2 linked regions of the Homo sapiens genome follow. The protein of the gene in region 2 interacts with the protein of the main gene of each other region in a biochemical or structural test. Each region holds a gene or a part of one and is shown on either strand. Other genes may lie near its edges.

Region 1 (3,500 bases), about 75 Mb from region 2:
TTGCCTTTAGAGTAAAAACTGTTTCAATTGAAGGGACTTTAGAGATCATGTAATTCAGTGTCATTTTATTTATTTACTTATTTATTTATTTATTTTTGGAGTTAGGGTCTTGCTTTTGTGACCCAGGCTGGAGTGCAGTGGTATGATCATAGCTCACTGCAGCCTTGAACTTCTGGGATCAAGGGATCCTCTTACCTAAACCTCCCAAGAAGCTAGGACTACAGGCATGTGCCACCATGCCTGGTTAATTTTTTAAAAATTTTGTAGGGATGGGGTCTCACTATGCTGCCCAGACTGGTCTTGAACCCCTGGGCTCAAGTGATCCTCCTGCCTTGGCCTCCCAAAGTGTTGGGATTAGAGGCGTGAGCCACCACACTCAGCCACAATCATTTTATAGATGAGAAAACCTGGGTAGGATGTGGTTAAATACTGATGTATGAAAACGTTACCTCATACAGTATTTGGCATGTAGTAAGAATTCAATAAAAATCAGTTTCCTTTTTTGGCCCACCATCCATTTAGGAACCAAGATGTCCTAAAACTTTCCTAACTGTTGTTCTGTATCTTTACGTTGAATAAAAAGCCCAATAAGCAGGTATTTATTTTATAAAGTGAATATTTATGAACAGTTTATTCTGTGCAATGCGTATATAATAAATTAGTACTATTTTTGCATTGTGTATATTAAAATTATCTTAAAAGACTGCATATCAAAATATGAGTGGATTCACATATTTTCTTAATAATTAAGCAATAAATTACTAAACGTCTGAATTTTCCAAAATACCCTTTTCACAAAGGAAAGAGATGAGGATAAATAGTATCTCCTTTCCCACACTGTTATACCTCCTTACCTGTCCGTGTATGTGGCTCACATTGATGCTGGAATAAGGAAACATGAGGCACTGCTTTGAGAGCCAACACCACCTAAGGAGTCAGGGTCTAGACTGCGGTCTGCCACTTACTAAGGGATGACCTTGGCAAGTTTTACTAACCTGTAATTTCTACATCTGCAATGTGGCCATAAAGAAGTCCAATCTTATAGGATTGCTCTAGGGATCCAAAGATATGCATATATAAATAATCTGTAAAATCTTCTGTCTATACAATATTACACGGTATAGCAAAATAAATAAATAAATAAATAAATAAACAACTAGAGAATGCAGGAAATCTGCATCCTGGTTCCAGGTCATCACTGTCTTGCCATGACACCTTGGAGAAGTCACCTTTTTGTAAAAATCTGCAAGATGCAAGGATTAAATTAGATCAGTGTCTCAAAGAATCAATTTGGAGAAACAAATGTGGGGCAAAGCAGCCCAACTTTTATCCACTTTCTTAGGCTTTCAAATCTTATATCATCCTTTGGGAGGCTGAGGTGGGAGGATCACTTGAGCCCAGAAGCTCAAGGCTGCAGTGTGCTAGGATAGCACCACTGCACTCTGGTCTGGGTGACAGAGCAAGATACTCTTCCATGAAGAAAAAAAATTCATATATTGTATCACCTAAAAAAGGGGTTCTGCTGAAATGAAATAATAAAGTTTCAACAATTTCTTTGAAGACTTTTTTTTTAATTACCTTGCATCCTTCACAAGCATGAACTCCATAGTGAAATCCAGAAGCTTTATCTCCACAGACACGACATTCAATTGCCATGAGGGAGTTGGAAGGCTCTTCATGAGGCTTATTGTAGAGCTGAGTCTTCTCAGAATAATAAGGTGGAGATGCAGGCTCCACTTTGATTGCACCTGTGTATGGAGACATGTGAGAGGATAATTATCCCATGAAAACAGTCCTAAAAAGGCAACAGGGCAAGCCACCATAGTACACCTTCATGCTGTATTTGTATTGTTTCAGTGTAAAAGCACAGTGGAACATGAAAAAACACTGGAGTTAAGGCAAGAAAAAGAAAGGTTTGTAATCACAGGCAAGTTATAACATCTCTAAGCCTCACCTGTAAATATAAAATGGGAATGAGAATTAAGTCTGTGGTTCTATGACCCCCAGTAGCCTGCAATACTACAGCTGTAACAGACAACATAGAGGATTTGAGACAAGGAAGCTTATTTTGCTAGGAAATGTTCTGTCTTTGGTATTCATCACAATATTAAATTATACATTTTATTTAAATATTCCATTTTATAAGTACTTTGAAACAACTTGCAAAAGAACCACAGAAGGAACACCACTGTGAAAAGGTCATGGTATGCCTAGCTTGAGGTGCATGAAAAATATGAGCCCAGGTTACCATTAGTGTTCAGTCAAAGGAGGTGGTTTGTGAAATAATCTTTGACAGAGCGTGGCGGAACTTATGGAAGTAAGCCCTACCTTTTACTAGTTGGGCTCAGGGCTACTAAATTTCCATATTAGGCTCTAACTGAAAACCGCATAGATAAATATAACTAAGCATATTATTTATCTTTAAAAGCCACTAGAAATACAGGAAGTTCTTACTTGTCAAGTAATGATTGCCAATTACATAGTGGTGGCTTTGGAAAACCAGCATGTCAGCCCACACATGATAAAAATCAAGGAAATAGCATCACAGAAATACATTTTATCTCAAAAAGTGCAGTTCTAGTTTTTCTTGAGTCTGATGTTTTGATGTTGATTTAGTTAATGGCATGAAAATTTATCAATAGGCTACAATGTTAAAACAAATTTGTGCTTAAAAGTAGGTTTCAGTATAAACTCCTGAAAGGACATACTAGAAAAAATGTACTGTAGTAGCAGTAATATAGTGAAGATAAGTTATATAATACAAAGTGACTTGGAATTGTTACTTATTAACTTATAAGGGGCCAAAATAATTCAAAGTTTGGATGATGGACTCTTAGCCTGAGATACAACTGACAGTGTAATCAAGGTAGAAAATGTCCCTAAGAAGGAAGTAAGCAAGAAAGGAAAGAAGAGAGGAAGGAAGGAGGGGGCGGGGAAGGCAAGATTGACCTCGTGCCAGCTCCCTTCCTGGCATTTCATAGATACCTAATATTTCATGGATAAATGGGTGAATAAATGAATGGTGAATGCCTTCTCTATTAGATTTCTAGTCTCTGGAGCATTATTTATTACAGGGTTACTGAGAGATGAGTCCAATTCTAGTCCTAGTAGTCTGAAAAGTGAAAATAAACATCATACTTTGGTACTCTTGAAGTTTCAGGTCATACTTGTAATCTGCAACCACTGGATCTGTTCTTGTGAATGGAATGTCTTCGTAATGTGGAGTAGAAATGCTGGAGAAGTCAACAGTAGTGAAGGGCTTGATATCAAAGGAGTGGGAGTGGTCTTCCATTACGGAGAGATCCACGGAGCTGATCCCAAAGTTGGTGGGCCAGAATGGCATCTCTGTGTCAACCATGGTCATTTCTGAAAGGAAAAATAGACTAGCTGTGAAGTTAAGTCCTAGAGAACACAGCAATCTCACAGAGTTTCAGAAAGAGAAATGAAAAGAGTCTTTGGCAAAGTAATCTCATCTGGGCGCTCACAACAACAGAAAAGAA
Region 2 (3,500 bases):
ACAGCATCTGTAATTCTAGGTTTTCTATTATTTGTACTGTAAGGTGTTGATTTGAATTCTCTAAGTTCTCAGGAGTGAAAGGACAGAAGGAATTTAGCTGCAAGAGTACGTGAAGAGAAGGGCAAAAGAGAAATCATTTTGAGCTGACACAAATTTGCTACTACTCAACCCCAGTAGAGTTGTAGTACCCACCACAACGTAGATATGAAGAGATTGGAACTCAGAGGTGTTAATCACTTGAACAATGTTAGTAATTAGTTAATGGCATGGATAATTCATTACTCCCAATTAGTCATTCTCTTTATTTTGCCTGCACCTGGACTATTACGTACAGTGGATTCATCTGATCATTAAAATTCTACCTACCAACCTGACAAAATATTAGTTATAGCTCTTCTTTTCCTGTGAGTTATTAATTTAATGAAATGCTCAAACTAAATGTAAGCATCAGAGTATGAGTAATGAAATAACCATATGAAAATAAAGTAATTTCACATATTTTAGAAATATAGTTCTTCCTGTAGCTTCACTTTTATATAGAGTATGTGACACCGTGTCGTTGTTGTTGTTAAGACACTTCTGTGGATTGTGTGCAAGGGGCTGATTTGATTAATGACTTAAGACTTCTCAGAAAATTCAGATGACATAATAAGGTTTCTATTGTGTACTTTATACATTTGTCTCTTATTTACCTTTTCTCTCTTATTTCTGAATTGCTGTATTTTGTAACTCAATTTATGCAGCTTTACTGGGGATAAAGTCAGGAGAGTTCAGATTCTCTAAGATCTAATCTCTCATGAAGCAAATGCTAATACTGAATTATGTCCCAATATAGACATTCTGACATTTAAAGCATATCACATTTTAACAAAATTTTTGAGAGGGATTTAACAATCCCTCTCAAAAATATTCAAATATCTTTGTGCTTGTGATGGTGAGTTTTTCTTTCAGTCACAGAATATATTTAATCTTAAGACCACAGTGATAGCTCCAGACCTTGGTGTAAGTCTTCTGCTCTTGATGTCACTAAGACAGGGTTTTGAATCATTTTGAAAGGCTCTTCCAGGGGTCTTTACATTTTAATTGAAATGAGGAAGAGGTTCGTGGAAGAGGGTTTGCTGAGTTCATGCTGGAGGAAACTTGTATCAGAAAGACATGAGCTGCCAACACTCTCAATGTGAACATTGGCATATTGGCTCCAGTCCTGGAAGCAGTAAGGGTGTTAGAATTCTGAGGCCAGCTGCAAACTCCCGAGGCCAGTGGTGGCCCTCTCTGATTAGGCAGGGTGGGAGTTGGTAGCAAAAATTATCTGAAGGTATTTGGGCCAGAGATTATTGGCCCCTGCTCTGTGACTGGTTTTAATCTTGGTGCCAACCTCAATCAACTGGCAGGGACTGCCTCTGTGCTGGGTTAAGAGAGAAACTAACAATGTACCTTGGTTCCTGGGAGTTCCTCTAAATGAACTGTAAGGTCTTTCCTCCAGGAAACAGTGGCATGTGTTTGTCATTTCCTGTCTCATAATCAAAATGCTGTAAAGGCCACAGAAAGCAATCCACCCGCACCTCCAGTAGCTAAACGCATTTATTTTACTATTTTATAATGACAGTAGTTCATCATTGAGGAGGGCTATTCTCATTAACCATGAATACTAATTAAGCATGTTGATCATAAATAATCAATTTTCAGAGAGGAAGAAAAAATATGGCTTTAATTCTTAATTTTTAAAAAAAGACGTCAGGATTTACAGGTCATTGTTAAGAACACCAGTCTTCATTTAACCATAAATGTTAGGATACTGGTTTATTCAGAATGTTGCTTGATAGAATGTAGGAGAAGCTCATATTTTTCTGGATTATTATTTTAAAGTTTTAATGTTCTATTTAGTCTTACATGGACAAATTTTGAGATATCAAAGGTTAAACAATTTAATTAAAATTAAACTATTTGCTCCATTTTACTTGAAAATTATAGGAATAAATCAATATTTGTCTGCGGTTTTTTTTTTTTACTGCTTATCTGTATCATAACAAAACACAAGTCAATTAGAAAAGATTTCCCTAATAAGTGATTCCTTTATCCACAGTTTTTCCCTCAGTATCACACACATACACACACACCATGCACACGCACACACACATTTACTCACACAGTTTGTCATCAATAAGAATTCTTTTCCTGCTGTAGTAATAAAGATAAAATATCAAAGAATTTCTTTTCTTTTCTTTTATTATTATTATACTTTAAGTTTTAGGGTACATGTGTACAATGTGCAGGTTAGTTACATATGTATACATGCGCCATGCTGGTGCGCTGCACCCATTAACTTGTCATTTAGCGTTAGGTATATCTCCTAAAGCTATCTTAAAAATAAACCAACAAATGAAAATCCTGCGCATAATAAAACTGTGTACTTTTTAAAAACAATTAAAATCTTATGTGGCCATGCCATGAAATTAAACAAGAATTTTTGATGAATAGATCTCATAAGCCAGATCTACGCATTCCTCAAAAACTGTGCTTCAATGCCTTTATAGAAGGATCAATAAGCAGGTAGCCATAATTGATACAGTCATACTTCACTTACCTATAGGAGAAAAGTATGTAACTTCAATGATTTCAATCTCACTTAAGACTCACTCAGAAGCAATTCAGAAAGGGCTGCTAAAGCCTGAAACAGCTATCACTAAAGCCCCTACCAATCACTCTTAGCTTCAATCAATGTCTTATTTATGTTTATGGACCAAAGGTCCAGAAGAAATATAATGATGAGGGGGGGTGTTCTGTAAACCTGTGCTGTCTGATATGGGAGTCGCTAGCCACATGTGGTTATAGAGCACTTGAAATGTAGCAAGTGCAACTGAGAAACTGAATTTGAAATCTTGTTTTATTTTACCTAGTTTACATTTAAATTTAAATAGCCACACGTGTCTAGTAGCTACTATATTTTTAGTGAAGGTAAGCCTACCAATAGCATCATGTTACAACTAACAGTTTGACGATAGTGAATTTCAATAAAAACCATACAAAGCAAACTCAAGAAGCACAGCAGTTCAGAGATACGTAAGTAGGGAAATTAGGTATAACCCCTATGGTCTCTGTGGGTGTCACAGAGCAGGAAACAAGAAGTGGTGATTTTTAACAGTAATTTTCAAAGTTAAGAAATCAAATTTCATGTCACACTCTGATCACAATTCTTTCAGGCCCAGAAAATCCATCTAAGTGTCCCCAAATTCAATAACATGTAAAAGACAACTTTTCTTACCTGCCATCACTCCATAGGTTGATGGCTGGTTTCCATAATGACAGGAAGGAACAGAATAATGAAGTCCTGTTGCTGTGTTTCCCAACGTTGTCACCGAGAAATGTGTGCACAAACATTTAGGAGTTTGGATCAAAGACAAAATAGATGGGACTGGTAAGAAAATGTATAAGGATTCAAGACACATTCGTTTTATTTCAAAAATACACATTTATGTGGTTCTTAAAGTTACATGCCAATA

What was found.
Region 1: the proteins of POU1F1 (region 2) and PPARG form a complex in vitro, tested with the Homo sapiens proteins (one study listed by BioGRID).

Annotation. Positions count from the first base shown.
Region 1 is NC_000003.12:12,379,570-12,383,069, reverse strand, and holds part of PPARG (peroxisome proliferator-activated receptor gamma), read right to left. Parts: intron 3,367-3,500; coding exon of another isoform or gene 3,359-3,366; coding exon 3,139-3,358; intron 1,749-3,138; coding exon 1,579-1,748; intron 1-1,578. UniProt on the Homo sapiens protein: Nuclear receptor that binds peroxisome proliferators such as hypolipidemic drugs and fatty acids.
Region 2 is NC_000003.12:87,270,085-87,273,584, forward strand, and holds part of POU1F1 (pituitary-specific positive transcription factor 1), read right to left. Parts: intron 3,413-3,500; coding exon of another isoform or gene 3,335-3,412; coding exon 3,263-3,334; intron 1-3,262. UniProt on the Homo sapiens protein: Transcription factor involved in the specification of the lactotrope, somatotrope, and thyrotrope phenotypes in the developing anterior pituitary. Specifically binds to the consensus sequence 5'-TAAAT-3'. Activates growth hormone and prolactin genes.